2 separate regions of the Homo sapiens genome follow, and region 2 is linked to region 1. The links come from fine-mapping of genetic effects on gene expression. A gene starts in region 1. The other region holds a variant in brackets. All regions are shown on one strand. Distances are from middle to middle.

Region 1 (5,000 bases):
CGACATGAACTGGCTGGGCAGGAATACCTTCCTGCCTCCTAGGCATTCTTGGTTTTCCATTATATTACACACACTTCTGAAAAAAGATGTTAACTACCTAACTTACAAGTTTCTCTCCTCTTTGTTGGAGTTCAGATTAGCACCTGGGGTCAATGCAGAAACAGTGCTCGGGGACAGGTTCTATGCCCCAATCCTGGGAGAGGCGAGTCCTTGCATGGTTAGAGAACAGGGCCTCCCAAACACTAGATGAGATGATGGAAAAATTCTCCATCCAGGGCAGGCTTTTACCATATATTTTGCCTGACAGCACTGCTCAGTGATTCTGACTCTTATCAATCCACAGATATTGGAGGTGAGCCTACTCTACTTGTATATTGTAGGTTGTCCACCCTCTGGGCTTGCCAGAGCCACAGGAGATAATCCTACTACAGGCATTGTTTACTGCAGCCAATCTACTGAGTCGAGGCTTCTCGGTCATTAACCCAACCCCAGGGAGTAACTGATTAGTACCGATTTTAAAATTTAAACCTGTTCGGGAGTTTCTTGGAATGCTGACCTCTTACCTCCGCTCCCTTATACATACGAAGTTTCTGAGCCACAGGAGCCCAAAGCTACGTTGCATTGCCCAAAACAGGGACAGACCAAAGTGGCTTTTTCCACTTGAAACTAAATACTAAGAATGAAGAGGTCGGCTCTCGGGGGTCCCGGTTAAGCAGTTTCTCTGCCAACCCACAGCTGTCACTTGTGGCTTGTCTCCTGGCCTCCTTTCAGGTGTCCTGGCCTGAATCTGCTGTTAGGACAGAAAAAAAGTCCCTGGACGGGTCATATCCTCTGTAATCTGGCAGGAAAGCTAAAATTTGCGTGCTCCCATTCCTCGTTGTGTTTGTGTATCTGCTTCCTTGTTGGGAAGAGCCTACATCACAGTGTCCGGTGTAGGGGATTTTCACCATGACCTCACCCTCCTGCTGCCACTCGCTAATTCCGGCGCGGCCAAGCGTCCCTGAAGTCACATCACAGCCCAGGTGGAATGCACGAGTGAGCCATTAAATGCCCCTGGTAGCACGTCTCAAGTGAACATCAACTCCAGTTCTTTCCCCTCACAGAGAGCCCTGGTAGGGGTCTGAAAATGCCAGAAAGAGCTGGAAGTGGGGGTGGACGACGTCTGGTTACCGTTCTGGGATTCGGAGACTAGAAGGTCAAGGGAGTCACTTTAAGAAAACACACCAGGCCTGGGCCTGGTGGCTCTGTCTGGAATCCCCGCACTGTGGGAGGCCGAGGCTAGAGGATCGCTTGAGCTCAGGAGTTCGAGACCAGCCTGGGCAACATAGGGGGGAGCCCCTGTATCTAAAAATAAATACAAAAAATTTAGCCGGGTATGATGGCACACGCCTGTACTCCCAGCTACTCGGGAGGCTGAGGCGGAAGGATGGCTTGAACCTGGGAGGCGGAGGTTGCAGTGAGTCGAGATCGAGCCAATGCACTCCAGCCTGGGCGACAGGGTGAGACTCCGTCTCAAAAGAGAAAAAATAAAATGAAATAAAGAAAATGCACCAAAGGCCTGCCAGGCTCACGCCGGCTGTTCTGTTCGAATAACTTTCGAGTCCGTGGCCTCGAAATGGGTCGGGTGGGCGGTGACAGCGGGCAGCGGGCGCGCAACGCGGGAGAAAGGGAGGCTAAGTGGGAGCCCAAAGAACCGCGTCCGGGACCTGGTCTCCGGCCTCCCGGCCTTGGGGAAGGAGCCCTTCTGCCCACAAGTGGGCTCAGGCCATGAAAGGGAAACAGAAAGTCGGGCTCCCCAGCCTGGCCCACGTGACCGCGGTTCCTCAGCCCTCCCCGCGCGCCCGGCCGCGGCTGCGGGCGCGGGCACCCGAGCGACACATCGAGCTCGTGACTCGCCGCCCAGGGCGGGAGGCGGAGAAGCGGCCGCGGCGTGCGAGCGCGCCTCCGGGAGGCAGCGGGAGCGCGCACGCTCCGGGGCCACCGCCCCTCCGGGGCCGGGCCCGCCCTCCTTCCCTCCCTCCCTCCCCCGCTGTCCTGGCCCGCCCTGCCCGGCCCGCCCTGCGAGTCAGTTCGCTGGTTCCCTCCCTCCCTGGGCGCGCTCGGGCCGCCGCCGCGCTCCCCGCCCTCGAGCCTCGGTGCCGGAGCCGCCCGCCGCCGGAGGAGGAGGTGGAGGGAGCCGGAGGGGCCCGCCGAGGCGGCGGCGGCGGCGGCAAGATGGCGGACTTCCTGCCGTCGCGGTCCGTGCTGTCCGTGTGCTTCCCCGGCTGCCTGCTGACGAGTGGCGAGGCCGAGCAGCAACGCAAGTCCAAGGAGATCGACAAATGCCTGTCTCGGGAAAAGACCTATGTGAAGCGGCTGGTGAAGATCCTGCTGCTGGGCGCGGGCGAGAGCGGCAAGTCCACCTTCCTGAAGCAGATGCGGATCATCCACGGGCAGGACTTCGACCAGCGCGCGCGCGAGGAGTTCCGCCCCACCATCTACAGCAACGTGATCAAAGGTGCCGGGCCGGGAATGGGGGCCGGGGGTTAAGGGCAGGGGGGCTGGGGCGGCGGCGGGTGCGGGGCGGGGCACCGCCCTGGTCCGCTGTGTCGCTGGCGAAGGAACGGGCCCGGCGGGCGGGCTGGCGGGAAGGGGGCGCGCCCCGGCAACTGGCCCTGCCCGCCCGGGGTGCCCTCGCGCCCCAGGGCGAGAGGATGCTCGGGGTCGCCCTGCTCTCCCGCTTGTCTCCCCGGTGGGCGTCACGGCCATTCCCCCACCCCCCACCGCGTCCTGGTCTCTCCCCCTGCGAGAGGGAAGTGGGGCGAGCTGGGTGCTGCCTCGGGGTGTGGGCAGACCTCTCCTGTCCTCCCCGCTGCGGATGAGGCAGGAACACCAATAGCAGCCCTAGCCGCTTCACCCCCATCCCCTGCTCGGGCGATGTGGGCCGAACCTCGCTACCCTGGCTGGGTGACCCGAGTCACATGGGGTCGCATGCGCTCCCAACTCCCTGCTTCCTTGGCCGTCTCCTAAGCAAGCGAGTTCTGGAACCGTCGCAATAAGGGAACTTTTTGCCCGAGACTTCTTGTCAAGGGCGTAGGGTGACAGCCTCCTTTTGGGCGAGAATATGAAACTTGAGGAGTGTCAGGTTGACTGTACTGGAATCAGGAGAGAGTGGACCCATACAGTTAGCATGAAAATGTAGCATCTGTGCTTTTTCGCCCCAGTGTCACGGTCAGGTAGGATGTTTGCGTGTGATTTCTGTGCAACACGTTCCACTCTCCTTTTCGCTAAGTAACTGGGGGCTGGCAGGAAGGGAGTACCACTGCTTCTATTTAGATGAAATGTAGTAGTAAGAAGACTGGCCTAAAAGTCATGTGGATCCTGTACAGATGGAGACAATGAATGAGTGTTGAGTTAGATAATTGGCTCGGCTCTTTATTGACAGTAGTTTTAAAATTAAACTTTGTTCTTAAGTGAAAAATAAACAAGTTGTTTATTTCTGGGCATTCAAAGAAATCGAAAAGATGGTTTTTATTTTGTCATTTGAAAGATAATTAACACTCGTTTCTGCGTGTCAAGTATGTTCTATAGAAAAGGCATTTTGGCAAAATTTAGGTGCAGCGCCTGGTAACTCAGGTGCATCTGGATTTTATTTTATCTGGGGAGCAGTTTAGGAGTTTGCTACAGATTGCAGGTCTTTTTAAGTGGGATTTTTGTTCAGGAAGTACATAAGGGACTTCTGCATGTCACCCCCCCGCCCCCTCCCCGCCAACCGCCTCCCGAGCTTCCAGCGTTTGGGTAAAGGAAAACTGCCTGAAGAGCCAGGCATTATGGAGTAATGAATTAGAGAGAATCACTAGACCACAGCCAGCTCTAGCCCTAGTACCTCTGCAGTTAAACTATAAAGAACAGTTGTATTTATCCTGCTGTAATGTTTAGCTCAAAACTAATTAAGGTCTCTTTCAAGGCTGCAGACTCTGCCTTGACAGTCCTTAATTGAAGGTACCTTTGTAACCTGATGCAGCTGAACTTAAGGAATTATGTTAATGAATAGCATCAACATGTTAACTGACTGTGAGCCTGGTAAACACCTCGTTCTTAATGTACACTGAGTTGTAAGTGTGATCTACGTTGAGCATTGATTATGAGATGATGTAAGTCATCAGGAATCTAGTTTTTTCAAGTTGACATGAAATTTGACAGTAGAACAGTTTCTCAGGCTGGGCGTGGTGGCTCACTCCTGCAATCCCAGCACTTTGGGAGGCCAAAGTGGGAGGATGGCTTGAGCCCAGGAGTTCCAGACCAGCTGGGCTACATAGCCAGACCTCGTCTCTATTAAAAAACAAAAACAAAAAAACCCCACCCGTTTTTCAGTTATTCAGATGACTTCCTAATAGCCAAGTGACTGTTCAGATTGATCAAACTTAATAAAAGTAATAGATCAGTGATAGGAAAAATGAGTTTCAACTAACCTCTGTGAGTTGGAGTCCGACTTTGTATTATTTTGCAGTTGATCTTCCTCCCTTTTAGGGAAATTGAAGGCCATCCTGTAACTTAAACTGGATTGAAACTTGGGCTGGAAGAAGTTTTTAAATTTTGAATGTGTTGCTAGAAGACTCAATGTTGGGTTAGGGTGCCGAAGCAACAAACAGAACATGGAGCTATAGTAGTTGGTTCTTAGTGTTTCATAAATGAACATCTTTTAGGCTCATAAAACCTTGGTTGTGTCTGTTTTCTTCTGAGCTTGGACATTGTTGGTCTGTGCAGCATAACTTCTTTTTCTTTCTTGAGTTAGATTGTTTTTTGACTACCTTCTATCCTAGAAGTTATTTTATAAATTGGAACATGTTAAAAATCCTTCAGAGAGAGGAATTGTGCTAATAGTATTTGCTTTTCAAGGCTCTAATTTTAAGACAGTGAGCAACTGTTATTTTTTTTAACCTCTGAGAAGTTACATTTGTTTTCGATGTTGGTCTTCATTTTTGAAGAAGGTTTGTCTAGGTTAATTCAGAAGTATAAGG
Region 2 (5,528 bases), 48 kb after region 1:
TTATCTGGAAAGGGCACTGGATTGCTCTGCAACCAAAGAAAGCAATATGGAATGAAAAAACTCATTCACTTTTGTCTTATTTTCTTTTAAGGTGTATTGGCATGTAATTTGCATAGAGAAGGTCCTCTGGTTAGTCTCTCAAATTGAGGCTGTTTAGGGAAATCCTTATTCAGTTGGTGGCAGTGGTTGGTTTAAAGTAGAAGGAAATAAGATCGCCTTAATACCAGAAATGATTAGAAGTGCTGATTTAGATTCAACAAATACCATATGTCCTTATCATTTTTTGTAAGAAGAAATTGGTTAAGTCCTAACTTTCAATGTGTACCCAAATACTTGTATTTATGCTTTTGATAAAATGTATTTTCAGCATTAATACACATCCGATTATGCCTTATTTATATATGAAGAATAAAGTTACCATGTTACACTGTTATGTCCTAAAATTCAAATCACTATTTGAGAAACCCTCAAATTGGTGCTTTCATTATATAATGATACATTTAGACAAAACCCCAAACTAAGCCATTTGAAACAAGATTCTCTCCATTGCAGTTTGTAGCAATGTTATTTCTGTGTATGTCATGAGAAGGCTAAATATCAGTGTTAATTTCTTGTTTGAATCCGTGAAATCATGCCTGTAAAGCCCAAACATTTGTAACAAACTCCCTAATAAATTTAGAGAAAGTCACTCTGTTACCATTTCATTTATTTTAGTTTTATTTGAGAAATTAAGACCAGAAGTTTTGCTCATGTCTTTTTCACTTGGAAATCTGACTTAGTACCTAGTTAATTTGTCTCTCTCCCATCATTTTAAGGCGTTCGCTTCTGTTAATCACAGATGATCTGTCCTTGTGTTGTGCTGCTTGACTAAAAGCACTGTTTTGTTTTGTTTTGTTTTGTTTTTTAATGATAGGATACAGGGTGGCTTTTCAGTCTAGTAAACATGAGGAGGGGAGAGATTGTGGGTGGGTGTGGGTGTGTCCGCATGTCCCAAATACAGCACATGCCCATTTTTTTATGGTACGAGGTTAGGGCTTATTAATAAATGTATACTAGATCTTGAAGTGTAAGTCTAAGTCTGAACATTTTAAACAAGTTGGACTTTATGGCTTTTTCAAGTTCCATCAAGTAGATACTAGTCTTAGGCTGGTAGGTGATTAACAACATCATTTGGAGTACAGTGTTTGTACCACTAGCATTCTTATGTCTGTACTTGAACGTGTAGTTAGCATTTAAGTTATGTTCACTCTTGTAGCATTCAGGTCTTACCATCTGGTTTCAAATGCGAGAGCTTATATGAACATTGTTTTGAAAGCATGAATGATATGGCAATATTTTATGTCTTGATAAGGAGAGTTTTGTGACATATACAAATCTGCTGTTGATGATGAAAGTTTACAGGTGGATCAGAGTATGCTGGAACTCAGTGTGCATAAAATTTCAGTCAGTGAATATCACTGAACGTCATATACTACTTGGTATGTGACTTTGGTTTGTGTTAAGAAAGCTTGTATATAATATTTTTTGCCATAGTAAGTGAGAAATTGTCCTTAATCATGCCTGTTTGATGGTACTAGGAAAGAAAGGGGTAGAGATTAATTCTTGCACAGTATAAGCAACAGTGCAACAAACTATGCCATTTACCTTTTACCTCTTACTTGAAGGCAGAATCGCAAAACGTTTGAAATGGCTTTTCTAAACTACTCTACTCTGGTGAGAGCTCATTTACCACAAGAAGCCTTATAAAAAAGTATATTTTGTAATAACCCCGTAGATACTGTACCTAACAAAACATGACTCGTATTAGCTCTATAAAATATTTGTGGCTTAGGATTTTTTTTTTACATATATCTTTTTATAACTTTCCAGGAACTAAGCACATTATCTGATAATTGTTGTAAATTTTTTTGTCAGTGCTTTAGTTCAGGATGGGCAATAAATTATTTCTAAAGGAGGTCTAAAAGTGGAAAGAATGGTTTGATTTTATAAAATGAGTTGCTAGTTCATTACAGCTTTTTACTTTTGTACATATTTTGCAAAACATTTGCCTCTTGCTATTAATATTTGCTTTGTAAAAATTACTGACATTTAATAAACATTTGTAAACAATTCAATACTATGATGTTATTTAACAGTTTGGTAATTGTAAAATGTAAAGCAGATACTAAAAGTTTGAAAGCAAAAGTTTCATCTAGGGCCTGAGTTAAGGCACAAATCTACTTCAGCAGAATCCCAATGCCACTTGGCTTGAATATTAGTCTAGAAACTTCTTACTAGAAATGGAGATGTGGACTTCTTCCAAGGAAGTTCTCAGACACTTAATATGTTTTGACAAGGGAATAGGGGAAGAGAAACCACTTGTTTTCTCTGCTCCTCTTATGGCCACTGAAACTGTATTAGGGTGTACCTGAGCTCAGTTCATCCAGCTGCGACAATATTAATAATTCTGTTACGTCTGTTGTAATTAATGTTTGGAGACAAACCAACATTGACCACTCATCTTTTTTAAAAAAATAAACTTCATGTTAGATTATGATTTACAGAAAAATTTCAAGACAGTACAGAGTTCCCCTATACTCCACACCCCTTATAATAGTTCCCGTAGTTACCGCCTTGCATTACTTTGGTACATTTGTCATAATTAATGAACCAATACTGATAACATTATTCACTAAAGCCCATGCTTTGTTCTTGTTTCCTTAGTTTTCCCCTAATGCCTTACTTGTGTTCCAGGATCCATCCAGCACACGACATTACATTCGCTCGTCATGTCTCCTTCAGCTCTTCTTGGTAGTTAACAGACTCCTGTTTATCTCAGACTTTGTTTTTGATTACTTTGGCAGGTGTTTTTTGTTTGTTTTTTCTTTTTGAGACAGGGTCTCACTCCTTTGTCACCCAGGCTGGAGTGCAGTGGCCCGATCTCAGCTCACTGCAACCCCCACCTCCCAGGTTCAAGTGATTCTCCTGCCTCAGCCACCCAAGTAGCTGGGATTACAGGTGCGTGCCACCACACCCAGCTACTTTTTGTATTTTTAGTAGAGACAGAGTTTCGCCATGTTGCCCAGGCTGGTCTGGAACTCCTGAGCTCAAGCGATTTGCCTGCTTCGGTCTCCCAAATTGCTGGGATTA[G/C]AGGCTTGAGGACTTTGGCAGTTTTGAGGAGTACTGGTCAGGTATTTTGTAGAATGCCCATCTGTTGAAATTTGGTGTTTTTCACATGATTAGACTGGGTTATGGGTCTGGGAACCAGAGAGAGAAAGTATCATTATCAAATCGTGTCAAGCACACCTTCTGTGGTTACTACTCATCTTTTCCCTTTACGCTTTCCTGCTAAGTTAGCAGTTGTCAAATCACTTGGCATCTTTATGCCTTTTCTTACCTGGCATGTATTGAAAGCTATGGCTGGGCGTGGTGGCTCACGCTTGTAATCCCAGCACTTTGGGAGGCCAAGGCTGGCGGATCACTTGAGCTCACGAGTTTGAAACCAGCCTGGGCAACATGGTGAAATCCCGTCTTTACAAAAATTAGGTGGGCATGGTGGCATGGGCCTGTAGTCCCCCAGCTACTCGGGAGGCCGTGGAAGTTGCAGTGAGCCAAGATCGCGCCACTGCACTCCAGCCCGGGTGATAGATCCAGACCTTGTCTCTAAGTAAATAGATAGACAGACAGATAGATAAAGCTGTGCTTGTACTGTTCTTCCCCTAAACAGAATGAAGGGCTTTCTCTTGGTGTTGCAAAGCAGGTGTGAGGAAATGGCTGGAGGTAATGGCTGGCTGTGCTCCTAGCTGCTCTGGTTCCAACCTCTCTGGCAAATAAAAATTCTTCTCCAGGTTCTCACCTCTAACATGAAATGTTACTGTTGATCTCAAGAGAAACTGGGTTAGAAAATTTGGACTTTGAGTCTAACTCTTAACATCTAAAAATCTGTGACTTTGGAAACAGGTCTTTCTGGGAGAGATTTAAGATCTTTAAAAATTGAAACTAGACTCACTTGAGCATTTGAATCCCCAAACAAACCAAGAGGTCATTTAAAAAACAAAAACACCTTTTTTATGCTGTTGTTGGAACAAGGGAATATTTATCTGTGTAAAAAGAAACAATACAAACTATTGTGTAGCAAAGTGGGCACAATCCTGGTTAATTGGCACTGTGGGATGTCATGTCAGTACAGGATGCTCTCCCAAAATGACCTGTTTCATTGCCCACAGAGTGGGTTGTTGAAAACGAAAAGGGAGACTTTTTGGTCCTGAGAATATAGGAAACTCAAGGTTTACAGGTTAAACTAGAGGTCTGTTTTGGTGACTTGGGAAATTTGGCAAATCCTCAAAAAGCAGATGGCCCAGGGCAGTGTTTTAAAATACATGCTATAGGCCAGGCGTGGTGGTTCCCGCCTGTAATCCCAGCACTTTGGGAGGCTAAGGTGGGCGGATCACTTGAGGTCAGGAGTTTAAGACCAGCCTAGCCAACATGGTAAAACCACGTCTCTACTAAAAATACAAAAATTAGCCAGACCTGTGGCGGGCGCCTGTACTGAGAATTGCTTGTATCTGGGAAGCAGAGGTTGCAATGAGCCAAGATCGCACCACTGCACTCCAGCCTGGGTGACAAAGCGAAACTCCATCTCAAAAAAATTTAAAATAAAAATAAAGGCCTGGAGTGGTGGCTCACACCTGTAATCCCAGCACTTTGGGAGGCCTAGGCTGGCGGATCACCTGATGTCAGGAATTCGAGACCAGCCTGGCTAACACAGTGAAACCCTATCTCTACTAAAAATACAAAAACTAGCCGGGTGTGGTGGCACGTGCCTGTAGTCCCAGCAACTCAGGAGGCTGAAGCAGGAGAATCACTTTAACCCGGGATGGGGAGGTTGCAGTGAGCCAAGATTTTGCCACTGCACTCCAGCCTGGGCAACAGAGCGAGACTCCGGCTCTAAATAAATAAGTAAATAAATAAAAGTACATGTAATTTTTCGTCAGAAATTAGTGGGGCCTCTGAAATACGGTATTGTGGTTGGCATAAGGGGTATCCACGAAAATGCTGTGCAAGAATATTTCACAGTGTTCCTTTTTCTTTGAAGTACACCAAGAAAACAAAAGGCTCAAACAAGTATGGGATACAAATTAGCCATTCAAGGAGGCTGTGTTCAGCTTATCTGTTTGCCACAAGAATACTGAGGGAAGTTGTGTCCAGAATTAACATTTATACTGAGTGGAGGAGTATGTTGCTTTTTCTTTTCCCCATGAAGGTTCATGGTAGGAAAACAGAAGCTATCATGTCTTTTTTAAAGTCGATGATTCTTCCGTAATGACCTAGACTGCCGCTTTAGACACGCTTGATTTTCTGCCCCTGCCAACTGCTGAAGGGGAGACAGAACATAAGATGAACTGAAGGCTAAGCACTGCTGACCTTGGGGGGAGAAAAAGTTGTTTCGTTTTACTTTCACATTATTCTACGTGGAAAATCCCCAGTTCTTGTAAGCTTTGTAGGATTTAACTAGCTGATTTTACCATCAGACTTAGTTGAAATTTTGT

Alleles and levels. Alleles are on the strand shown, and positions count from the first base shown. SD is a standard deviation of normalised expression in the study named.
For the expression in tibial artery of the gene that starts at base 2,068 in region 1, allele C in region 2 goes with a lower level than allele G (small effect, 0.38 SD a copy in GTEx).

What was found. PIP is the estimated chance that this variant, and not a neighbour inherited with it, causes the effect.
Region 2: its variant is the best candidate, but not a certain one, in a credible set for the expression of GNA13 in tibial artery (GTEx, PIP 0.52).

What each region holds. Positions count from the first base shown.
Region 1 is chr17:65,053,808-65,058,807 of GRCh38, reverse strand. GNA13 (G protein subunit alpha 13) reads left to right here and starts at 2,068. Exons shown (of 4, transcript NM_006572.6): 1 at 2,068-2,497. The coding sequence starts at 2,215. RefSeq lists silencers at 1,781-2,290, 2,571-2,830.
Region 2 is chr17:65,005,875-65,011,402 of GRCh38, reverse strand. It overlaps GNA13 (G protein subunit alpha 13), which reads left to right. Exons shown (of 4, transcript NM_006572.6): 4 at 1-2,114. Among named protein-coding and RNA genes, the nearest start is that of GNA13, 48 kb to the left of the region's middle. The variant G/C (reference allele first, on the strand shown) is at 3,130.